7 linked regions of the Homo sapiens genome follow. The protein of the gene in region 2 purifies or fractionates together with the protein of the main gene of each other region. This does not show direct contact. Each region holds a gene or a part of one and is shown on either strand. Other genes may lie near its edges.

Evidence for each region.
Region 1: the proteins of ST13 (region 2) and PRDM1 purify together in Homo sapiens (affinity purification with mass spectrometry; one large-scale study listed by BioGRID and IntAct). This does not show direct contact.
Region 3: the proteins of ST13 (region 2) and NELL2 purify together in Homo sapiens (affinity purification with mass spectrometry; one large-scale study listed by BioGRID and IntAct). This does not show direct contact.
Region 4: the proteins of ST13 (region 2) and ASF1B fractionate together in Homo sapiens (co-fractionation; one large-scale study listed by BioGRID). This does not show direct contact.
Region 5: the proteins of ST13 (region 2) and ASF1A fractionate together in Homo sapiens (co-fractionation; one large-scale study listed by BioGRID). This does not show direct contact.
Region 6: the proteins of ST13 (region 2) and TMEM37 fractionate together in Homo sapiens (co-fractionation; one large-scale study listed by BioGRID). This does not show direct contact.
Region 7: the proteins of ST13 (region 2) and DSTN fractionate together in Homo sapiens (co-fractionation; one large-scale study listed by BioGRID). This does not show direct contact.

Annotation. Positions count from the first base shown.
Region 1 is NC_000006.12:106,089,336-106,092,835, reverse strand, and holds part of PRDM1 (PR domain zinc finger protein 1), read right to left. Parts: intron 1-3,500. UniProt on the Homo sapiens protein: Transcription factor that mediates a transcriptional program in various innate and adaptive immune tissue-resident lymphocyte T cell types such as tissue-resident memory T (Trm), natural killer (trNK) and natural killer T (NKT) cells and negatively regulates gene expression of proteins that promote the egress of tissue-resident T-cell populations from non-lymphoid organs.
Region 2 is NC_000022.11:40,829,140-40,832,639, forward strand, and holds part of ST13 (hsc70-interacting protein), read right to left. Parts: coding exon 3,430-3,500; intron 1,818-3,429; coding exon 1,701-1,817; intron 536-1,700; coding exon 487-535; intron 1-486. UniProt on the Homo sapiens protein: One HIP oligomer binds the ATPase domains of at least two HSC70 molecules dependent on activation of the HSC70 ATPase by HSP40. Stabilizes the ADP state of HSC70 that has a high affinity for substrate protein.
Region 3 is NC_000012.12:44,775,316-44,778,815, forward strand, and holds part of NELL2 (protein kinase C-binding protein NELL2 isoform b precursor), read right to left. Parts: intron 2,000-3,500; coding exon 1,927-1,999; intron 1,810-1,926; coding exon 1,727-1,809; intron 836-1,726; coding exon 707-835; intron 1-706. UniProt on the Homo sapiens protein: Plays multiple roles in neural tissues, regulates neuronal proliferation, survival, differentiation, polarization, as well as axon guidance and synaptic functions.
Region 4 is NC_000019.10:14,130,090-14,133,589, forward strand, and holds part of ASF1B (histone chaperone ASF1B), read right to left. Parts: intron 1-3,500. UniProt on the Homo sapiens protein: Histone chaperone that facilitates histone deposition and histone exchange and removal during nucleosome assembly and disassembly. Cooperates with chromatin assembly factor 1 (CAF-1) to promote replication-dependent chromatin assembly.
Region 5 is NC_000006.12:118,900,652-118,904,151, reverse strand, and holds part of ASF1A (histone chaperone ASF1A), read right to left. Parts: intron 3,387-3,500; coding exon 3,271-3,386; intron 1-3,270. UniProt on the Homo sapiens protein: Histone chaperone that facilitates histone deposition and histone exchange and removal during nucleosome assembly and disassembly.
Region 6 is NC_000002.12:119,434,854-119,439,004, reverse strand, and holds the end of TMEM37 (voltage-dependent calcium channel gamma-like subunit), read right to left. Parts: intron 2,715-4,151; exon of another isoform or gene 2,620-2,714; intron 2,117-2,619; coding exon 1,565-2,116; 3' UTR 501-1,564; downstream 1-500. UniProt on the Homo sapiens protein: Thought to stabilize the calcium channel in an inactivated (closed) state. Modulates calcium current when coexpressed with CACNA1G.
Region 7 is NC_000020.11:17,594,075-17,597,574, reverse strand, and holds part of DSTN (destrin), read right to left. Parts: intron 1-3,500. UniProt on the Homo sapiens protein: Actin-depolymerizing protein. Severs actin filaments (F-actin) and binds to actin monomers (G-actin). Acts in a pH-independent manner.

The sequences.
Region 1 (3,500 bases), on a different chromosome or scaffold from region 2:
TTCTAATATACAGTAAACATCTTCATCTCAAATGCACGTCTGAGACACAGACGCCATAAAAGCTGAAACTCTAAGACTATGGTGCTTGTCCAGGTAACTTTGGAGGGGGAACAGGAACCAGGATTGTTTTTAAAGGGAAGTGAAAAAACCAAGTACTAAGTCTCCCTCTGGTCCTAGAAAGATCCAGAATGTGCATCTTAGACTACCCATCTCCCTGACCCATAGTTTGTAACAGTTTATCTTTGAACCAAGCAAATACTAAGGAGGAACTTGGTGTGTAGCTTAAACTTCACAGTGCTAAAAAGACAAAGAATGTGTTCACCTAACTCAAGAAGGAAACTTCACTGGAACTGACCAGGGTCCTAAAGAATTACTGCTGGGGACAGGCCGCTCTGTGCCTTCTATAAACTCAACAGCAAGAGGACACCCGGCTTCAATACCTCCTTGCTTCACCTGCTCCCACAGAAGCTCTTTATGTGCGGTGCAGACCCCTCCACCACTTGAGCAGATTTGTTTCTGTCTGTGGCCTCAGTTACAGAACACACCCCGCCGTCCACAGTTTCCACAGCTTCCGGACAAAACACAGGGCTTCTTTTCAATTTTACACAATGAAGGAGATTTGACAGCTTAGGATGGGTTGAGTTGGAGCGCTTAATGGAAGGCTGATAACAAGGACAATATAGGTTTGTTTTTTTTTTTTTTTTTCAAATTCCTTCTTTAGAGAGTATGCAAACAGACACACACAGCGTGGGTTTGAAGCAGAAACTATATCCAAGTCTAAATGTCATCTGATCATCCTCTCCCCAAATTACATTAAGATCATTTAAATTACTAGCTATCTGTTTTCCCTCCCCGAATCCCACTCTATAAGAATGACTCGTTAGATTATAATTCTGTTTTGACCATATGAATATTTGTCTTGAGAGAACTAGAACTCAGTAGTGACCAAGACCTTCAGCCTGCAATCACCTCATTTTTATTTTATTTTATTTATTTAGAAACAGGGTTTTGCTCTTGTTGCCTGGGCTGGAGTGCAATGGCATTTATTTACTTATTTATTTTGAAACAGAGTTTCACTCTCGTTGCCTGGGCTGGAGTGCAATGGCACGATCTCGGCTCACTCCACCTCCCAGGTTCAAGCGATTCTCCTACCTCAGCCTCTCAGGTAGCTGGGATTACAGGCGCCCACCACCACGCCCGGCTAATTTTTGTATTTTTAGTAGAGATGGGGTTTCACCATGTTGGCTAGGCTGGTCTTGAACTCCTGACCTCAGGTGATCTGCTGTCCTCAGCCTCCCAAAGTGCTGGGATTACAGGCGTGAGCCACCGCGCCCGGCAATCACCCCATTTTTAAAAGGAGTGAAGTGAACAAAGTTGTTTGGAGAAGGTTTCCTTCTTCATTATCTTTCTATTAAAGGAGACATGGTGATGCCTTGGTACATCATTTCTCAAATAAAAGGCAACATGAAGAGAGAATTGCATGTTATGGTGAGATACTTTTTACAGATGGCTTGAGTTAATAATGGATTTCGATCAGAATGGACACCAAAGGAGTCCTCACAATCTGTCTGATGTTTATCAGCCACGATACAGGGAGGTGAGACTCACAGAGCCACAGTGCCTCTTGAGTGCAAGCAGTCTCAACCGACGGCAGAAACTCTACAGGGTAACGCTTCTAAAATATAAATGCTTGAACTGATTTTTCTGTAGTCAAGTAGTCATAAGAGATTATTTCAGGAGGACAAGGGGAAAACCCCCATAAAAGAATAACCCATCAGTTTAAAACATTTTCAAAGTTTTGAATAGTAGGTCTATATTTGATTTCAGTTCTGGAAATAGGAAGTAAGAACAGTTTTTCATTAAAGGTGCAGAATGATTCTAAACCCAATCTAAAAATGAGGGTCAAGATCAGAAATATGATTTGTATGTTTTGTTTTAACCAAAAAAAAAAAAAAGGTGCTGACACATGGTACAAATTCATAATGAAAAATGGTCTTGTAAAAAAAAAATTCCCCGGTATGTCAGCACAATAGTACATATTGTAACATCTTTTGCTATTTAAACGAAAACATTTAAAGAAGGGCAAGATTAATAAGTCAGATAAAAAGTACATGTAGAAAGACTCTTCCTATTTCAATGGCTCATGGAACTTAAAGAACTAACTGAATAAAGATAATGTAAACATTTCATCAATCCTTAATGTTGCTGTCCCGGAACTAGTTTGCAGCTATCCTACCCTTAATGGCTCAACTCCACCATCCTCTTTCACCTTCTAAAGGAAGCTGTCCTTTCCCAAAGTTCAAAAACAAAGGAGAGAAACAGAAAAACAGGTACAAATTCCAGAGTAAGCTTAAGACAGTATTACATTCAAGTTTACTCCTTGCTTGACTTTATGATTAGGGTTTAAAGACATACTATCCTCTATTCAAGCGCTTCAGTTAAATGCAAGATAGGGAAATAGGATAAGAGAACCCTCACCTCTTAGGTTAGTTTCGAAGGACCTTCTTCAGGAACACAGGCATTGTCTGTTTTTTGGTTGCTTAATATATTGAAATAGGAAGTTATACATTCAGAGGGAAAAAAACACAAAATAGCTTAAGGATTGGTCTGAAATATATTAAGATGATAACTAAAACCACAGTGACACCAAGAGGGGCCAGTGTAGCATAATCGAGAAGCACTCATTGGAGAAGTCAGAAAAGCTTTGCTTCAAGTCCCCGGTCTGGCTTTACCTATATGCCTTTGGGTAAGTGACTGTCTTTCTGAACCTTGAACTAAATGATCTAAGAGCATTACTTGACTTAGCTATGATTTTAAAGGAGAATGACGGAAATTGAAAAACTTAAGCTAAGAGCTGAACTGACGATAAGAACATTATAGAATTAAAAGGCAAAGATGACCCACAGAATGGAGATTTTTACTTCAGTCCCAAAGGACTGGACAGGGCAACACAGCACAAACGAAGCTTGGGAACAGACGAATATTTGGTCAAACTTGATATGGGGAAAAAACACACTACACTTTTTAAAGCCATAGTCAAACCTCATATACCCAAACAAATCCTACATTCATTCCAAGGGCCACATATTGAGAGACTTTCTATAAGAAGAGCATTACTTTCAGGAAGAGGTATAATTAAGGCTGACCTCTGGGGTTAAATTTTTTGGTAACATTCAACTACAACTAGAATTTAAATTTTATTTTTTATAAAATCTGCCTCCATTCACGCAGCAGTGGGGGAAAAAAGAAAGACTGAGCATCGTTGTTCTATTTAATTTTAGACAGCTGTGTCTCCCCCTCACCAAAAACACTGGACTCAGACACACAAACAGGAAAGAGACAAAGCATTTCCTAGTCTCCCGGATTCCTTCAAATACTGTTCCTTAGGGAAGGGGGAAAGTGATTTGACACGGCTGTAAGGAATAGTCCCAGTAGCAAATTCTGGATTTCTACGGCCAACCATCCCCTTTCCCTACTTTCTGAAGGAAGTAATAGAATTG
Region 2 (3,500 bases):
CGGATCATGCAACTAAGTTCTAACCAGTGACATATAAGCATACGTAGCCTCTAAAAACTTTCCTTAAGAGAAAGCTAGTTACCATTAAACAACTGGAGACAGTTGTTTAAAAAACAAAAAATTAAGTCTTGTCCTGGTCTTTATATAAATTCCACACTGTCGTAATCAGGAAGTACTCAATAAATCTTCTGCGTGCCTTTTCCGTCTCTTCTATCTCTGTGTTAGTCCTGTCCTCTGGTATTCAAAGATTTGCCTCACTAGCAATTTCTGATCACATTTGAAAGAAAAATACGCTATTTTTACACTGTACAAAAAACATCATTTTTATGCCTAATAATTCCATCATTTCTTTTACCTAGGTTCTTCATGAATATCACTGTATAAGAGAACAAAATCAGAATATCACTTTATAATAAATATTAAGTATTATATTAAAATATCACTGTATAATAGAACAAAACAGTTTTAACTTTTCTTTAAATATACCTGGAAAAGAGCCATACTGAGCTCCTGACTGTCGTCTGGCTTCTTCCTCCTTTGATACAAAAGGAAATAAATTATATAATAGAAGAAGAAATAAGTGCTGTCCATGCAACCTGTCCATGCAAGACCATGAAAAAATTGTAAAATAACCTAGTAGATGGCAATACTGAACTGAAGGATATACTTCATACCCCCTTCAAACATTTTTTCCAAACTGGATTCTCAGTGGGCATTATTCTTGGTAGTAATTTCAAGTAAAGTGTTTTACTTCTACTCTGGAAACAAGTAAACCTGGAAAACAATTTATAGTACTAATATGAAAACTCTAAATTCATCCTGGCTTTAAAACACCCATAGGGAAGGACATGGCTAGATTACCAAGACTACCATGACTTTTGTTTCCTAGGTACATCTTTTCCGTTATTCTCCCTACATAATACAAATGTAGATTTATTGATTTGTTTTTGCTGCTTTTTAAAAGAGAAAATGAACAAAAAATAAATATCCCTCATATGTAGTTTTAAAATTATTGAGGAGATATATTGCTTTTAAATATCAAGGAGATAAATTACTTTTAAAGATTATAAACTATAACCTTAAAATCAAGTATGATGCTTAATATTAAATGGACAAAAAATTAGAATGTAACATATTATATAATACAGCCTTAGGTTCTTTCATGTTCTTTCATTCAATAATGTTAGAAATAAGTAGGTGAATTATTGTAGCATCACACTATGTTGCCCAGGCTAGTCTCGAACTCCTGGGCTCAAGTGAACCTCCCACCACAGCCTCCCAAGAGCTGGGACTATAGGCACTTGCCACCTTGCCCTGCTAGAATCATTTTTAAATAGCAACACATCCACTGTTGGAAGAGAGGAGGAATCATAAATTTAATTAATCTGGCGAAGCATCCTCAAAAGATCAAACAATAATACTGTCACATTTCAATTACTTGACCTGGAAAAACAACTGATTTTATAAAAACACAAACAAGAATATAAAATGGTGAAATAAAAGCTCACTGAATAATTTAAGACTAAAAATGTCCCCCAAATTAGATACAGTGAAAGGAGACTCCCCATAAGTAATATCATTACTCTATAGAACTGTAGCCAGCATTAAATAAAAGAGCCAGGAATTAAAATTTTAGTGTCCTAATGCCTCTACATAATTTGCCGTATTTTCCTTTCATGGCTTAGCTATAGGAAATTTACCCTCTGGGCTCTCTCATGCTCTTCTCGAGCCTTCTTAACTCGTTCTATTCTTTCTTTGATCTCTCGCTCTTCACGTTTTCGCTCATACTTTCTCCGATGTTCTGCAATTTTCTGTGCCTAGAAAAAAGAGCCATAGCAAAATAAGCTTGCTCCAAAAGCTGAATAACATCAACACAAATATTCTTTGTAGAGAGATGTTTAATTCAACATGCAGTTCAGAAAAATGACAGATTTGTCTTGTACAAAAAGACCTAACACAAGCTAAGCCTTTAAGAAAACCAACCTCAACTGCATGAGGCACTGTAAAACAGAGTAAAGGGGCCTGGGATTTGAAGTTAGAAATGTTATAATCTCAAACAATTAAGCTCAAAGATTAACAAACAGGTTTCTAAGTGCATGACAATTCTTGCCTGCTAGTTTCTATCAGATACACAGTGTTTAGGTTTCAGACGGACAGCTGAATTCAGTAGGAAGAGTATTATTACGGATGTCTGCCGTGGGAAGGCAGAGACTGGGAACTCATACCCCAAGTATATGCCACAGTATATTTAAGTTTCTGTATCCATAAAATGGGAGAGGAAGAAATATTTAATATTATCAAATTGCTATAGGGATTAAGAGGGAAAAATGTAAATATGTATACCAGACACTAGTATCAAATAAATGCTCTGGATGTTATTTCCTCAGAGAATAAAATACATTTAAGAGATTCATATTCAACTGTCACTTTAGCTTGTTTACACTTTGCTGACAAAGTTACAACTTTGCCCTATTTTAAGAAGAAAACAGAAAACCAAATGAACTCTCTGGCAGTAAATAATTAAATTCAATACAATTCCCACTATCTTAAAATCTCTGAGAGTAAATTCTTGACAGCTGAACTTCCCACAAAATGAAGGATTTACCATGTAAACACATTAAAATTATTTTAACCAACAATTTTAGATAAAAATCATCCTTAAAAGCTGGAATGTTCTACTTTTGGGATTCAATATTATTATTTTTAAAAGATTGAAACTTCTTTGTTTTATTAAGACAGCCTCGCTCTGTCACCCAGGCTGGAGTGCTGTGGCGTGATCTTGGCTCACTGCAACCTTCCACCTCCCAGGTTCAAGTGATTCTCCTGCCTCAGCCTCCCGAGTAGCTGGGACTACGTAGGCGCATGCCACCACACCTGGCTAACTTTTTGTACTTTTAGTAGAGACAGGGTTTCACTACGTTGGCCAGGCTGGTCTTGAACTCCTGACCTCATGATCCACCTGCCTCGGCCTCCCAAAGTGCTGGGATTACAGGCATGAGCCACCGCGCCTGGCCGGAAAGCCTGAAACTTCTTAACTTCCACAAGGTCTTCTTGCTTTATAAAGTGGTTGTACACACCTATGATAAATAAGGACACATCAGATTCAATCCTGGGTAATGCTAATTATAGATTTTCTATTTGTTTCCTTGTTGTAAACCTGATACCCCCTTTTCTAATTTTCTGGTTATAATTCCACTGCAGGCTTCCAAACAAAGTAACAGAGTTTGCTCTAATAATGCATGAGAAATGAAAGCATGAAAACCTAATGAGATCTCCAGAGTCGAGCACAAACTTCAGCAATTACAGATTATATCTTCCAATGGTTTGTTTCTTTGCCTGTTTTTCAGATGAATTACAGCTGTCGGGGGCTAAGCACTACAGCGATGGAGTATTTAACTAATGACTTTCCCTTTCTCTACTTTGACATACCCTAGGTTGAACTTCTTTCAGCATTGCACTAGCATCTTCATCATAATCCAATTTACAGGCAAGGGCAAGAT
Region 3 (3,500 bases), on a different chromosome or scaffold from region 2:
TTTGAATAAACTGGATGAACTTTGAGAAATTTTTTTAAAAGCCTAATTCACATAGATGTCTGACTTCTTTCCAGAAAACCAGCTTTAACAGATGAGTTCATGTGTAATTTAAAAGTTTAAAACCAAACTCTTTGAACTTTTCTTTGAAAATGAACATATATTTCTGAAATCATAATGCAATAAAATATTCTACTTCATTAGCGAGCAATTAGCAAAATCACATTTATTTAAACTTTATAATTTGTATTCCACTGTATTAATAAACTATTAGATTGTCCCAATCATTTAAACTCTATCTAATTTGCTTATATTGCTCAATCTGGACACAATATTTAATGCTGCATATGACTTAGTTTCATGAAAATGCATTCATGAAAACACAAGGGAGAAAAATCTCTGGAAATGTTAAGGATAAGAGGATAGTCTTCTTTAGGAATCACTTTACCTAATTTAAATTGCTAACTTCATGTGTGTACCAATAAACTTAAACTTTATAGCATTCCTAAACCATAATCATCTTTAGAAGCTAGAAAGTGTTTTTAATAATGCAACACAGTTCTTTAGATATGACCAGGTTTGTTGACACTTTAGTGTTGTGTCTTGAGGAAATGGGTCTTGAAATTTTCATGATTACATTGTTTTAATAAATTTTTAAAGAGTGGGAGCATCTGAGTTCCCTTAGTCTCAACTCAAATAGAAGCCATACCAGGCATGTGCAGTTCTTACAGCCGTCTATCCAGGACTCAAATTCTCGGTAGGTGGTTCCCTTCATGGTGCAAGTCCTTTCACAATAGCACTGATCCAATCTATTCATTCGCTGTTCAGCTCGAGACAGCTGTGGCACAAAAGAACGGGTTTTACATTGTTCATCCTTCCAGCAACACAGAAATGTGAAACACTCCGCAGGTATCTTTTTTTTAAAGTATGTAGCAATGATGATGGCTGTGCTTATCAACCACTTGCCATAAACATATTTAAGACTTTAATTTAATTTAAAAGAATGTTTTTTTCTCTCCTCTTCTTTTTGTGATAAATTTGCTCCCTGCCTTAGAAACAAACAACATAATTTATAAGACATAAATCAAAGGTTAATTCAAAACATCACTCAAATGCAGAGAAGCACTTTCCATTTAAAAGAAAAATGTTTAATTTCATTTATATGCTTCTTCAAGTAAAAAAATAAAATTCAGAATTTATGTTGTATAAGAAACAAATCATACACCATACAACACAACCATCAGGTATTCTGTAACTACTATACAAAATTACAAGTCTAGTGAAATTGTAGGTAAACCTGACATATGCTTAAGATATTAGTAAATAATCCTAGAACTGTAACATAGTGGTAGAAAGCATTTATGGGACCATTTCTTTGATACAATTCTGGTGTCTATATTCTTTACACTGTCCTACTGCCTCCTTGCTTGTAATGAAAAACTGAATAAAAATAAATAATAATAAAAGCTAAACAATAAATCCTCCTGTAGTAAGCAGTGTATAAATTAGGTAATCTGCCTCATTCCTGATTTACTGAATTATTTGTTATACAGATGGCTAGGGTTTTAATATTTATAAGCCTTTCCTTAAGCAGAGATTTAGATTCAGTCCTAGCAAACAGTATAGTATAAGAAGAGCCTCGAAGGTGAAAATCTATGGTTATAAATGGAAGTATTGGGAACATCAAGGATTTTTAAGCTTCCACACTGTATTCTTGAGTAGCTTTTACCTTGGCTGATGTTTTGGCTAAAATATCCTGTAGCTCCATGATTTTCTGCACAAGTCCATGGAAGTCATTGCAAGTTGGACAGGCTGGAATTACAAACACTACATTTGGTCAAGATGCATTTATAAGGGGTTCAATCTGGTTAAGTCTATGCTGACAAGTAATATATGGGGACTCCACAGTGCAAGAACTAATAGACTTACTGCGATTAAGATCTGGGCACTGAGCAATAAATCCCTGGGGCATGACAAGTAATTGGACATCTTGCATTATACCCTGTGTGTGAAAAATAGAAAAAAAAGACATATTACTTTCATTTACCCAAATTATGTTCAATGGTCAAGTTCATGAAGGAAAATATTACAGAACACACTCACTAAAATCCCTGAGTAAAAAGTCTTTGTTAATACATTATTTCCACTTCATACCAAAGGGAAAGAAATTCATCAGGCACAATAGATGATTACCCATGTATTCTCTTATTGATAATGTTTTTAAAGCCTTAAGATTAAATGTCAAGATATAACTAAGAGGCAATAGTTATGTTGTTTTGAGAAGTTATTTTTAGTTAGCCACTGACGGGCTTGAAAATGACCTTTAAAAAAATCAACCTGATAATAATTTCTAGCTTCAGCAACTCTGAAATTGATACCAATTTTAAATTAACTTTAATTATTAAAGAAAAGGATAGAAAAACTGAGTCATGAAAGCATGCTCATTTGAGCATCTCATGAAAGTGGGATCTTTTAAAACTAATTTCTCAATTTAAAAAGGACAATAGATTCATTAAACAGCTACAGCAAAATATAGTGATGAGTTCTTATGAGTACAGAAAGTTTAAAATGAAAATTTTTTAAATGTCAGCTGGAAATGACCTGTTTTACATAGAAAATTTTATCACATGTTTATAGGCAAAATTTACATGCATACTTAGTCATTAAGGTATAATTAGCTTCCAGCTTGCTGGGCTCCTAAAGCAAAGACCAATGGTGGCTCAGAAATGATCTATCAGACACATCCAGCTGTCTCTTTTATCTGCCACACTCCCCCCATTTCTTCATGGCCTTTATATATTTTATTAAATTAATATTTTACTTTATCCATTTGAAAAATGCAAACAAAATATCTAATGATAGGAATAACTGTACCAACATGACATCAATATAATTTTAAACGTACCTATAAAGATTTACCAGTCAAATACTGGTCTCTATGTCTTGTACATGTTTAATCTGATTAATAGCATGTATCAATGTGAACGATAAATATTTAAGTATTTTTACTGTGTGGGTATTACTGGATCCAGTGTGTGCTTGGGCCTAGATTGATGAAATAAATTGTGTACCAACTCCTATCACTTAGAAGCAGCAACATAAAAACAAGGCTATCGTGTACGGTTATATAGTTTATGCACTGTACAACTCTAATGGATACTATTTATGGACTACAATAAAGAGAATGACCCCCAGAGTTGTACACATAATTGACATGTGGAGATTTTGAGGCCACACTTAGGCTCCATGGGAAGGACTGTCACGATTAAATAGAGATGAGATTTGGGACTCACAGCACACATCTGCTATCCCTTACCTGGGAAAAGCGCATGGTTTTAGGATTTGCAAGCATGGAACCAATTTCCTATTTGTGTCACTTACTATTTGCCTATCTTTAAGCAAGTTACTTTACCCCTCTGTGCAGGTTTATGCATAATAAAACAGAAATAAAAAATGACCCTGCATCAAGACTAGCAAGGCTACTATTAGATGGAATCATATAT
Region 4 (3,500 bases), on a different chromosome or scaffold from region 2:
ACTCTGTTGCCCAGACTAGAGTGCAGTGGCACGATCTCGGCTCACTGCAAGCTCCGCCTCCCGGGTTCATGCCATTCTTGTGCCTCAGCCTCCTAATCAGCTGGGACTACAGGCACCCCCCACCACGCCCGGCTAATTTTTTTTTCTATTTTTAGTAGAGACGGGGTTTCACTGTGTTAGCCAAGATGGTCTCGATCTCCTGACCTTGTGATCCGCCTGCCTTGGCCTCCCAAAGTGCTGGGATTACAGGCATGAGCCACTATGCCCAGTCGAGAATCATCTTAAATTTGCTGAAGTGCCCAGGCATGGTGATGTGCACCTGTGGTTCCAGCTACTTAGGAAGCTGAGGTGGGAGGACTGCTTAAGCCCAGGAGTTCAAGTCCAGTCTGGGCAACATAGTGACACCCTATCTCTTTAAAAAAAAAAAAAAAAATCTGGCTGCAGTGTTATAAGTAGAGACATACGTGTATGATTTCATCTCTAAATATAATCTTTCTTTAGAATTATACATGGGACACAAATCACCAATACAGCAGGAACTCATAGCTATGAGTACAGGACACAGCTGTACACATGACGTGTGTACCTAACCTTCTGAGCAATGTCAAGGCAACTCAACTGTGTCCCATGTTATCTCTCTGCGCTAACTTCACAAGCTAGTCCCTGTGCAAGACATACCTCCACTGTGTGTTTGTGTGTATATATATATATATATATATATAAATGATAAGACTAAAGACATGTACACAATTAGTATAGCTGAACTAGCTAAAAAGTCTGCTTCCTGCTTTTTTGTTGTTGTTTTTTTGAGACAGTCTTGCTCTGTCGCCCAGGCTGGAGTGCAATGGCGCAATCTGGGCTCACTGCAATTTCCATCTCCCGGGTTCAAGCGCTTCTCCTGCCTCAGCCTCCCAAATAGCTGGGACTACAGGCACCTGCCACCAAGCCTGGCTAACTTTTGTATTTTTAGTAGAGACAGGGTTTCACCACATTGGCCAGGCTGGTCTCAAACTCCTGACCTCAGATGATCCACCTGCCTTGGTCTCCCAAAATGCTGGGATTACAGGGGTAAGCCACTGTGCCTGGCCATTTTTTTTTTCTTTTTTTTTTTTTGAAACAGAGTCTCGCTCTGTCACCCAGGTTGGAGTGCAGTGGCACAATCTCAGCTCACTGCAACCTCTGCCTCCCGGGTTCTAGCGATTCTTCTGCCTCAGCCTCCTGAGTAGCTGGGATTATAGCTGCGTGCCACCATGCCTGGCTAATTTTTGTATTTAGTAGAGCCGGGGTTTCACCACGTCGGTTAGGCTGGTCTCGAACTCCTGACCTTGTGATCCATCCGCCTCGGCCTCCCAAAGTGCTGGGATTACAGGTGTGAGCCACCACACCTGGCTTTTTCTTTTTTTTTTTTTTTGAGATGGAGTCTTGCTTTGTTGCCCAGGTTGGGGTGCAGTGGTGCAATCTCGGCTCGCTGCAAGCTCTGCCTCCTGGGTTCACGCCATTCTCCTGCCTCAGCCTCCCGAGTAGCTGGGACTACAGGCGCCCGCCACCACACCCGGCTAATTTTTTGTATTTTTAGTAGAGACGGGGTTTCACCATGTTGGCCAGGCTGGTCTCGAACTTCTGACCTCAGGTAATCTGCCCGCCTTGGTCTCCCAAAGTGCTGGGATTACAGGCGTGAGCCACCATGCCAGGCCTCCTTTGTTTGTTTGCTTTTTGCCTTTGTTCATAATCAAAGATGAGCTCTGCTGCCATAACAACTTCGTTATTTCTGGGTCAGAACATCTGGCTTCTATGACTTATTCAACCAGTGTCTGTTGAATTTCTCAGCTAAATGTGGAAGAATCTATTTCCAGATGTGGAAGATAAAAGTGCAAAGGGGGCTTGGGGCCCCTGAGAAATAGGGGTCACCCAACTGGGGCTTAGGGGTTAGGGTGGTTTTTTTTTTTTTTTTTTTTGAGATGGGGGTCTTGCTCTCTCACCCAGGTTGGAGTGCAGTGGTGCAATCATGGCTCACTGCAGCCCTGACCTCCTGGGCTCATGCAATCCTCCCACTTCAGCCTCCTGAGTAGCTGGGACCACAGACACGTGCCACCAAGTCCCGTTAATTTTTTGATGTTTCTGTAGAGACAAGGTTTTGCTATGTTACCCAGGCTGGCCCAAATTCCTGGGCTCAAGAGATCCTCCTTCCTTAGCCTCCCAAAGTGCTGGAATTACAGGCATGAGCCACCTCACACAGCTGGGTTGGGGGTTTTGTCAGATTTTCAGTTGACGCTGCTGAGAGTGAGGCAGATTCTCCCTTTTTCATGGAGAGGAGTCCAGAAGGAGGCAGAAAGCAAGCTGGCAGATCAGTCACAGAGAGCCCTAGGACTGGAAGAGCCAGGATTTCTCACTTGAGTTACTCAAAGGAAAAGCTTTATCATCCAGGTACAATTAACAATAGCATTCTCTGGCCAGGCGCTTAGGATTCAAAGTGTAATCCCAGCACTTTGGGAGGCTGAAGTGGGCATATCACTTGCGATCAGGTTTGAGACCAGCCTGGCCAACATGGTGAAACCTCGTCTCTACTAAAGACACAAAAATTAGCCGGGCATGGTGGCTCAAGCTTGTAATCCCAACTACTTGGGATACTGAGGCCGGAGAATCGCTTGAACTCGAGAGGTGGAGATTGCAGTGAGCTGAGATTGCACCACTGCACTGTAGCCTGGGTGACATAGTGAGATTCCATTTCTAATAATAATCATCATCATCATCATAATCATACGACGGGCACGGTGGCTCACGCCTGTAATCCCAGGCCGAGGCGGGCGGATCACAAGGTCAGGAAATCGAGACCATCCTGGGTAACACAGTGAAACCCCGTCTCTACTAAAAATCCAAAAAGTTAGCTGGGCATGGTTTCGGGCGCCTGTAGTCCCAGCTACTTGGGAGATTGAGGCAGGAGAATGGCGTGAACCCGGGAGGCGGAGCTTGCAATGAGCCATGATCACGCCACTGCACTCCAGCCTGGGTGACACAGCGAGACTCCATCTCAAAAATAAATAAATAAATAAATAAATAAATAAATAATAATAATAGCACTTCCCTTCACTGCATTTTGAGTGTCCTGATTAGGCAATAAATTCTGTGGTCATTCCTATCTATGCTCCACCCCTGAAACAGGGAATCCTTCCTTTCTTTCCCTGGATTGGAGCAAAGATAAAGAATTTAGATTCAAAACTTCAGTGCCAATACTTCTACAAACTGGCTGTGTGACTCTGGTGAAGTCACTCCATTTCTATTAAAAAATGATCAGCAGAGGCTGGACGCAGTGGCTCACGCCTGTAATCCCAGCACTTTGGGAGGCTGAGGCGGGCGGATCACCTGAGGTCAGGAGTTCAAGACCAGCCTGGCCAAGATGGTGAAACCCCGTCTCTACTAAAAATACAAAAATTAGCCAGGCGTCATAGCAGGCACCTGTAATCCCAGCTGCTCGGGAGGCTGAGGCAGGAGAATCGCTTGAA
Region 5 (3,500 bases), on a different chromosome or scaffold from region 2:
CAGCTCTAGCCTATCATTTGCACTGCTACCAGCATTAACACAGATATGTTCTTTCTCTTTGGTTTTAAAACCTCAGATTATTAAAACCCTCAGAAGAGTATTCCCTTTTCTAAGGGATAAAATCTCAGTTCTTTAACTTCATTGACAAGGCCCTTCTCAGTTTGTCTCCAGCCAATATCTCCATTCATACCTCCTTTAACTCCACCATTGTTCTAGAGATATGAATCACACAGGTTCTTTAAAACGTGGTGATAATCTTTTCACGCTCTGAGCACGGTGGCTCACGCCTGTAATCCTAGCACTTTGGGAGGCTAAGGTGGGTGGATCACTTGAGCCCAGGAATTTGAGATTATCCTGGGCCACATGGCGAAACCCCATCTCTACAAAAACAAATTTAAAAAAGAAATACTTCACCCCCTGTGCTTCTAACATACTGTTCCCTTGGCCTGAAAGGTCCTTCGCTCACATCCTGAAAAATTCATCTTTTAATCTTTTTTGGAGCTTACATCGAGTGTATTCTCAGTGACGCCCTTTCTAACTCAGAAGGTAGAATCAATAGATTCCTTTTTTATGTGCTGATATTTCTTGTCACAAATTATCTAAGAACGTATGCCCTGTGATCTAAACATGTTTATTTTTCAGTCTTCTCTTCTAGATGCTATGCTTTATCCAGGGCAGGAGTCCCATCCAGTTCATCTTTATAATCTCGTGTGGCTCAGCTCTGAGCACTTAGTATTTTGGAATTCATTTGTAAATCAGTTCCTGCCCTGAAGGGGTTTATGATCTCTTGGCAAGACACCAGGATAGGGGACAGCCAGCCTTGTCCTGGAGAATATGCTGTTTGTCTTAGAGATTCTACACACCCCTGCACAGAGGGGTTAGATTACTTTCAGTGTACCCAAACGGATTCTAATATACCTGAAGTGGGTGGAGATGGGAAATATATAATAGTTCAGTACTGCTATGAGAACTCTTCCCCTTCCCTTCAGTAAATTGGTTCCCTTCAGTAAATTGGTTCTAGGCATGTTTCTGTTTTAAAATCTGTTGTAAATATAAAACATCTTTTAAAAAGCATTTTACAATTTGAAAAAGATTCAGTTTGAGCAAATTTAAGTAGAGAAGCTTACAGGCCTTTCAAATAATTTAGGATGCAGAAGTAATGAGCAGAGATCTTTGTTTTGACTCTAGCTGGCAATACTAGGCAGATGTCTGGACATCTTCCTGCTAGCCTTTGACTCACTCAGAAGAAAGACATGTTTAACTATTTAGAGAGGCAAAATCATGGCAGACCAAGAGATTACTATAGTAGTTTTAAAATACAAAACAAAAGCTGTAATTTAGTCTCTTTCTGTTGATAATGGTGAATTCTGTAAAACCTTTAGGCTGAATATACATTGTACCTCCTCTGTTCTTTTTGGCAACATGTACACTGACACCAAGGTAAAACTACGTGAAGATCACCAGCAGGAAATACTTTTGAATACATTTTTTTTGCTACAGCACTTTCAGCCAAAAGCTTAGGAGTATGCTTAATAACAAACACAAAAGATTTTCAAGGGTTTGTTTCAATAACAAGGCATTTATTTGTAAGTTCTTATAGTAGCCAAAAAAAAAAAAAAAAAAGTATTATCAGTACCTGTCAACCCAGGTTTCTTTTACTGTATCATGAATTATCAGTAAAGTATGGGTTCCTTAGGCCTGTGGGTCAGAGCAAGTCCTGCTTTTTTATATAACAATTTCAAGAAGTTAAGAGAATAAAAATGTAGTTCTAATTTTAGGAATAGGGCACTCTTTATGAGTGACTGATTATACTGTTTTATTCCCCATAACATTTTAATGAGATAGAATATTATCCACATTTTATAGAAGACTGGAATGACTAAGGGAGGAGGTTAGAGAGGTAAAGCCACACATGGCTAATACAGAGGTGTCGGGATTTGACCTATATCTATAACTGCAGTGCTTCCTTCTACAGAACAGGGCATTCTGTTACCCATGTCTTTTACATGGTTATGCACTCACACAACTTTGATTAACAGCACTTTTAATTCATATATTTGATTAGTATATTTGAGCTTTTCTTAGCTATTTCTTTAGATACAGTAAATTATTTGTTGCTTTTTAATCAAAAGTACTAAGGCTAGGAAACCAAGATTCTAAATTCTGTATTTAGGACAGGGGAGGGAAAGGTAGCAGCTCTAGAGATGGCATGTGTCTAAGTGATTCTTTGCCAGTTTCTGATGGGATTATTTGACCAATGGTATTCATTTAAATTGGTCCCATCTGTGAAGTGAGAAAACAGAGGTCAGGCATAGGAAGAGTTAGATTTTCTTTCTGGATTAAGTCTTTTCAGTGAGTTCCACTTAACTGATGGGACATTGCTGGGTTGAAATACTTGTAACAGAAATTAATAGTAGTTTTAAAAAACCTATGGCTAGTTACTCTTTGGTCTATTACAAACATCTCCCTTATAAATAAGCATGCATAATTGAGGAATAACTGAATGGTTCCATATAGCAATTTAACATGGATTAAAAGAAATAACACTTTTGAATATAGAAGACAATGTCTGAAGCCTTGGTATAGATCCAAATACTCTCAGTGGTATCTAAGAACAAAATTTTTATTACTAGAAATTCTCTTCACAAATACCTAGTGGGGTAGTAAATTTGCAAAAGTAGTCCTCTTATAAGATAATGTAGATTATAAGATGCTTTAGTAAACTCTGGAATGTCATTCCAATGACCCAAGACCACACATCTCTATCCACTAAACGTATCTGTTAACCTAGCTCAACTACTGATTATGCTGAAATAAAGTTGTTTTTGTTACATCACCATCAGTTCCAGTGGCTGAAACCATAAACTGAAGATGCATATTACTAACAATGCCAGTTAGTTTTAGATATTTTGAATCCATGTTTTGGGTTGCTAGACAGCCACCTTGGAAGTCTGATACTGAGGTGCTATTCACAGGAAGAGCCCCAAATTCACCACCCTGTGTGCCATGATACAGTATAAAATTTACTGTAGGTTGTTCATCTCTCTAAAGTAAACGTCACATTAACATCTCTCAGCATATAAAACCAGGAAGTAAGAGTTCCTCTGTGACACAGAGACTGCCTAAAACATGATGGAAACAGATTTAAAGTGAATGCAGCAGAAGCAGTTCTTTAACCCAAAAGGAAAGGGATAAGGGTTATAAGATAATAGATAATATAGTCTACTTCGAAACATATTTGGCATACACATTTACCAAGATTAATCTTACCTGAAATACAAACATATGCCTTCCTGCGGGAACAGGACCCACTAAAACAGAGTCTAAAACTTGATCGTATTCTTCACTTTCTGCAGAGCCCACATAGATAATTTTCCATTCCAAGTCTAGGGTTAAAAAACCAAAGCATTATTTCATATTCAGTAATTACATTACCAGATGACATCAAAGACCCTTTTAATGTCCACTTAGCCACTTACTGGCTTTAAAATTGGCTTCTC
Region 6 (4,151 bases), on a different chromosome or scaffold from region 2:
ATCCCTCTCTGGGCCCTGACTCCCCACCTCCATACATCCCCTCCCCGTGAAGAAACCAGGGGGTTACACATCCCCTTTGCAACTTGTAGATTGCTCCAGGTTCCCATTTCCCAGGCTAAGATGCCGCCAGTGTGGTTGATGAGCTCTGTACTCTGTAAAACTGAGCAATTCATGGAAACCTTTCCAGGATGATCTCCATGGACTCTGGGCACCTTGGTGGTTCAACCTTAAAGCCCATGGCCTTATATCCTACAAAGCAGACAGCTTCATGACTCCATGCATCCTGGAATAAAAAATTTAAAACATCACAATAGACGTAGGTATAGGCACTCAGCCCAGACCAGGAAAGGAACCTGCAGCAGTGACAAGACCGGGGCAGAGACCAAAAACCCATGCAATTGCTGGGAGCCAGAATTCAACAGGTGAGGGAATGGGAAGGAGTCAGTGTAGAATGAAATGGGCTGAGGGCAATAACATCACCTACTTCTGGGCAGAAAAAGGACTAGAAAGGGAGCACTTTAATGAACAGAAGTACAGACGTGCTGGCAAGGATGGAAATCTCCACTGGTTCCTGGCCCCCTTCACCTCCATGCATCCCCAGCATGGGTGTTAATCATTACCCAAGCTCTCGCTGTTCCCCCTCACCCCCTGCAGAGTCCAGCAGGTCTAGATACGTGCTCTTTGAAATGTGTTCTGGGATTAAAAATGGTGCCCTGAGGCTGTCTAACCCTCACAAAAGACAGACACATGCACACACGGGCCTTGGGGAGGGCTGTGTATTAGCAGTCAGGTGGGCCCTCCTGGGAGAGCTTGCTCAAGAACTCTTCTCGGAAGGAAACCCACCTTAAGGTAGGGTTCTGATAGGCAGAGCTCCCAGAGGCACAGCCAGCTGCTAGAAGATGGGGTTATCCAGGGTTTGTAAGGTTTAAACAACGGGCAGGGAGGCAAACCGAGTCAAATGGTTTGGAAACCTACTGTGTGCAGGGCATTCTGAGGGAATCCTGAACTCTGCCTCTTTGGCATGACCAAAGCTGAAGCCAGGGACATACATACGAAGGCCCTTTGAGCTGGTGGAAGAAAGTCCTAGGCACTGATTGGACCCTTAGCTGGAAGAATGATCCATTCTTAACAACCCTGGGAGCCCCAGGGATTCTGCAGCCCCTATCCCAGCACGTGTCAATGAAACAGGCATGAACTATCCTTGGCTGTGCAGCTAGCTCAGGTACCAGTTACCCCTGTGCTTCCAACTGTATTCCAGTCCAGGGAAGAAAATTCAAGAAGGAGTTTTAAAATGTTTTTTTCTTCCTCTAAAATCAACATCTGGCTAAGCCTGTGCAGTTGGTGGCACTGAGGCACCCTCCTGGCCTCTGGCCCTGCAGACCAGGTGCAGAGGCCCCCGGGCCATTTCTGGCTGACCACCCACAAGTTATCGGCAAACAGGCAGCCGTTTCAAGGCCCTTGTCCAACCCAGCCCCACCAGAGGCCACATGCTGGAAAAGTCCCATTTTGACCATATTTTCTTGTGGAATCTGATGTCCCTGGAGGGGGCCTAAAATTTCCACGGTCATTCCCAGGGATGGGTGATGCTGTTGATGTGAAGGCCGCTGATGGCGTTCAGGAAGAGGAGGAAGGAGGCAGTGAATTCGCACCAAAACATTAGGGTGAAGCCGATGAGTGTGACTTGGTTCCTGAGGAGGATCACAAAACCCAGGAGCCCGCCGGAGGAGAGGACGAAAGACACCAGGAGGAGGATGGAACCCATGACCCACTTGCACTGTGAGTGTTTGTCCTCGCACAACTGGGACACCATGAGGAACTCCAGGCCAAAAATGGCGGCCACCACGGCCAAGGCGCCCACGCTGCGTACCAGGCCCATGCCCACGGCCAGCCCGGGCACATGGGCCTGGCCCAGGTCTCTGAAGCAGATCGTCTGGTTGGTGGTGGTGCAGAAGTGCCAGAGCCCGAAGAGGCGGTCCTCAGCCAGGAGCCAGTGCCCATCACAAATGGAGACCGAGGACAGGACCACAGCCAGGGCCACACACGTGATGATGAGGGTCCGGATGAAGGATTCAAAGAAGGACCGGCGGGGCTGCCTTTGGCCCAAAGGCCTCTGGGCCTGGAAAAAACCGTAGGAAGCACCCTGTCAGCCACAGCCCTGCCACGCCCCCAGGAACCTCTGCAGGGAAGACCCCTGAGCCCTCCATCCTGCTCCGCACTGTCTTATTCTCTGCTTGGTCTCCTGTGAAGCCCGGAACAGACCAGACCCACCGTTTGGGGGGAACCCTTCCTCCCTTCCAGACCTGTGAGCATTTACCATCCAGTATTCACCAGGCACTAAGAGCTTCCTGACCTTTCTTTCTTTTGTGATCTTCAGAGTGGGTGAGAAGTCCAAACCGACTGGCAAATCTGAGTCAGTTCTGAGTTCAGAAAACCTGTCGTGCCTGCATCCCATGACCTTGAGCATGCAGCCTGCCTCGGTTTCTTTGTACATAAAACAAGAATACGGCCTGGCAGAGTTGCCAGGGTTGTACCAAGCACTGAGACATTAGCACACCAATACACAGTTCTGTTTCCCTCCATCTCCCCAGGATACACGATTTTGTCCTAATCCCCACCCACCTGATGATTCGGGAGCTGTCCACGTTCAGCCCAGGACTCTAGATTATTGCCTCGTTTTTCTTGGTACTGAAAGTGACATTTGCATCTTGCCCTCAGACCTGTGCGGCCTGTACCCTACCCAGAGCTTGCCAACCCCATTGTCTGCTCCTGCAGCTTCTGGGCATGGGAAGGCCATTGCAGCTCTCCTCCACTTCCGGTTCAGCCCTGGAAGGAGGCGCCCCCACCCCGGTCTCCTGGCAAGCCAGGCTAGGTGTCCAGTGAGGTGTCTCATCTCACAGTTCAAGGACACCACCCGGGCACTGCACCCAAGCCCTGACCCAGAAAGCAAAAGAAAGACTTCAGGAACTCTTTACACAGCCCACAAGCCTCTCACAATCCGCTCCGCCTCCCCACCCAACCTCAGCTCCCAGCACACTCCCCTCTCCCCATGTCTAGAACTTTCTTTCCTCAGATGACTGGCCCTTAAGCCTGTAGTGGCTCTTCTGCAGCTCCTGCCACCCCTCCAGGACAACACCTCTTCTCCATTCTTCATGTCTCAGCTTAAAGTCTCCTCCACAGAGAGTGCTTTCCTGCCCACTCAACCCAGAGTCAGGCCCCTCCTGGTATTCTGTGTCAGGCACCTGTTCAAATTCTTCACCATTCTGAGGACAGTTTGTAGTTACATATTATTTCTGTCTCATTCCAACACTGTGTGCTCTGGGAAGGCCGCCCCCTACCCCCACACCACCACATTCTGTGTTTAGGCACTGCTGTGTCCCCAATACCTGGGCATTCAGTGGGTGCTCAAGGGAGAGCTGTGAGATAAGTCAAAGGTCATTGGCAACCACTGTCACTTCCGTCTGAAGCTCCTTTAAACTGAGTCTCCTGCACAGTCATACATTAAATGACCTGCTTTGCAGTGTGTCTAGAAGCTGCCCAGGTTACACCTCGGTTTGGGAGGTATGCAAAACAGGCACGCATGACGGTCACTGCTAGGACCCAGGAGAATGGAGCAGTGAGGAACATGGGGTGTGTCCTATGCCATGGGCAAATGGAGGCTTCCTGAGGCAGGTCTGGGCCACTCCTCTCTGTGTGAGACATAAAATAAAGCCCTGCTTCTGGGAGACTCCTGTGGTCAAAGAGCCCAGCAAGAGTATCTGCTCACATGCCCCAGACACAGGAGCTACCGCTAATTTCAACCCCAGGGATACAGGAATAAGGATGCAGTTTGCTTTCAGCACCTCTGCCTTAAGTAGGATCCTATTTTATTCTTAAACCTATGAGGTTGATAAAGTAGGAAGCTCCATGGTGGGTGTACAGAGAAGGAAACTATGCAGAGGGCAGGTGACTTGCCTGAGATCACTCACCTAAAGCACAATGAAGCTCTTTATGGCTGCCCAGACAATTGTATGATATGCAGGAGGTGGAATCCGTTCAGCGAATAAATACTGACTAGGGCCTTCTAAGGACAGGGCCTTTGTGCTAGGGGCTCAGTACTGAGCCCTTACAGCCCTCCCTACATGGGCTGTAAGCTCCTGGATGGGAGGGACCGC
Region 7 (3,500 bases), on a different chromosome or scaffold from region 2:
TGTATGTTATTCGGGTGATGGATACCCTAAAAGATCTGGCTTCACTGCTACCATCCATGCATGTAGCAAAATTACACTTGTACCCCCATACATTTATACAAACAAATAAAAATAAAGTTGTCACTTTAAAACACATGCAAGAATCCTGGGAGAAAGATACACTAAGATCCTAGCATTTACTTAATATTAAGGTAACTGGGCTATTTCATCATCTCATTCATTAAAGATCTCTAAATAACACACTCCAATGCCATCTACTCCACATTTTCTGTTCATAAATGAACATTCACTCTAATAAAGTGGCAGAAACAGAAAATTAGGACTAGAAAACTCATAAGTACACAATATTACCACATTCCTAATTTTAAAAAGCACTTTTCTTAAACCTTTTACTGCTTTAGGAGTAGCATATTTCTGATCTTTACAACGTATCTTATGTTAAGCAAGTTAAGAATCTCCATTTTGCAACAGATGAATAAAATGTTCAAAGCAACAAAAATTGAAGAACTAGAAACAGATCCCAATCCCTCTAACTCCCTAGTCCATAATGTTGAAGTCACATTTGACCCAACAAGCAATTTCTAAAAGCAGGAAGGCAACATCTAAAGCCTTATATTCAATCAACCAATCTTTAAATACATCAATCAATATCTAAGCATCTCAAACATTCTAAATTCTGATTTGTAAATTAAATCAATGATGTACTAGTAATCAAAAACAAAGTAAATGTGCATTCTGCAATTATAAAACAGATAAATCTCAGCCAAATCTGGCTGTAACTTACAAGCTCCTTAAAAGCCTCAGTAAGGAAGAATTTTGTCTTTTTTTCTATCAGAAGTGATGTCTGTGGAGGTTTCTTATACCATTAGACACTTGTGCTTGAGGAAATTAACACTGAATACTTGAAGGAGAAACTGGCACAGAAACTGGAAGCAGAAAACCAATTTTGACACAATTACAAATATTCAGAGAAGAAAGCTCTGAACTACAGCAGTGAGGTTAAAAACAGAAAAATTCAAGGACATGTCAAAGTCAAACCAATATAGCTGAATGAGACACAAAAGAGTGGTATCAGAGAAGCCCCAGGATTCTCTCGATTAGTGACTAGACTGCAATATATGAACAGAAAAGGAAATATGGCACAGTACGACACATCCACTCTGAAGACTGTGCAAGACATCTAGGTGGAGATGACCAGACAGTGGCAGAAATATGAGCACGGATCTCGTTGGAAGGCTTCACCTAATCCATATTTTGGACTAGCCCACACCATGGGGTCACCAACATTAAGCAGCAAAAGAAAAACCAATCTAGTTTCTCACCACTGAGTACGTAAAAATTAAAAAGAGAAACCCATCAAGGACACTAAAAAGAGGTAATCAGAAAACTAAGAAGAAAAAGAAGGAAGAAAGCAGCATCTTAGAAGCAAGGGAGAATATTTTGAGGAGGAAAGTCATCAACAGCCAATTCTGCAGTATTTCAGAGAATGAAAACAGATCGCTGGGCTTGGCAATTGGGCCTCTGAACATTTCAACAGATGGGAGAAATGGGACAGAAGTCAACCATAATGGACTGGGGACCCATGGGGAATTGAAGAGGTAAAGACAGAAAACATAAGATGGTTAACAATGAAGAAAAAAGGGAAGATTGAATGGTACTTCATGCAAGTTGTCTTATGATTGGGGAGATGTAACTGTTCTAGATATTTAAGAACTTGAAGGAATAAAGAGGAAGAGCCAAAACATTAAAAAAAAATTAAAACATACACTGAGTACTTACTATTGCTAGACACTTCTAAATCACAACAATTCTATGAGACAGCTACTATCACTATTTGCATCTTAAAGATGCATAGCAAAATTAAATAATTTGCCCAGGGTCACAGAGTAAACAATAGAGGAATTGGGATTTGAACTCTGGCAATTTGGCTCCAGAGGAGATTTTTTTTTTTTTTCCAGATGGACGTTCGCTCTTGTCATCCAGGCTGGAGTGCAATGGCACCATCTCGGCTCACTGCAACCTCTGCCTCCTGGGTTCAAGCAATTCCAGAGGAGATAATCTTAATCACTCATAAAATTAACAATATCAGAGATCTAAAGAAATGGGTAAGATCCACAGCACAGATGGGAGAGTTAGCCTAAGAAAAAGATACACATTTTTTTCTCTGAAACAGGGAGGAAGGGAAAATGACAGTTTTGAGGTGGAAGGAAGATACACTGCCAAAAATTGTGTCTGAAAGATTCTATTTTCTCTGTGAAGTATAAGGCAGGAGGAGTAGGATGGGTTTGAGGGCACTCCTCCAATCTACTACTACTAACAATTCAGAACAGCTATGACGGGGAGTTCCAAAAGGAACTACCTAAGGACAAGAAAAAGGGCTCTGGGGACCTCCAAAAGGTCAGCTGAGGTCAAGGGGTGAGGGTGGTAGGACAATGCAGTGGAAAGCAGAGGCTGATGGCAGTGTGGAAGGAAAGGACGAACTCTGCATTCTTCCTCAGAGAGTTTACCCAAGCTCAAGCTTTCAATCATCTAAGCCAAAACTTAGTTCAGACTTCTGCTCTTCTGAGCTTCTAGTCTTTACATTCAACTTCCTATCTCACATCTCCAGTTGTGTGTCTCAAAGGCATGTGATGCACAACATGTCTAAAATAAAAAACAAGCTGGTCCATTTCTAACCAGTCTTCCTTTCTCAGTAGCTATCACCACCCTCCTAGTCACATAAGGCTCCAAGCCTAAGAGATGTTCTTAGCAACTCCTCCATTATCTTACTCTTTGGATTTTCATCTTTCTCTGATACATTCATCTCATTTCACCCTCAGTCCAAGCTTCCATTGCCTCTTACTTGGACTGCAGTAACTCCTCAAGTGGCTGCAGAGGAGGGAGATTAGGATATGTATACATCATACTGTTTTCTCTTCTTGGCTGAACAGGAAAGACTGCATTCCCCAGCCTTCCTGGCAAGCTGAGTTGGCTGTATGACTGAGTTCTGAACAGCCATTTGAGTTCTGAACAGCCAAGCTGGGCCCAGTTATGTAAACTACTTCCAGTCCTGGCCCTTTAAAAGTGATCTTTAAATACACTAAATACAGCTTTTTAGATGTGAATCCTACCACAATAAAATGATTTTTAAAACATCAAAAATTAAATAAAAGTTAAATAAAAGTGATCTTAAAGCTCTGTTTTCTCCCACCAAGATGACCTTGGTAAGCATACTTCATGATAGGAGAAGGCTGCCCAACCCTTCTGGACTCTGCGTGACAGAGACAAATCTTTACTGTGTTAAGTCACTGAGATTTTGAATTTAATTTGTTATTGCAGTTCTAATACAACAAGACTGCCCATACCAACTGCCCATCACCTTTACCCTCCAATTCATCCTCTACATAAACATGAATCTGATCACCATACTTAGAACAGTCCAGTGGCTTTCCATTGATCTGAAGGTAAAAAATAGCTATTTATTTATTTATTTATTTATTTATTTATTTATTTTTGAGATA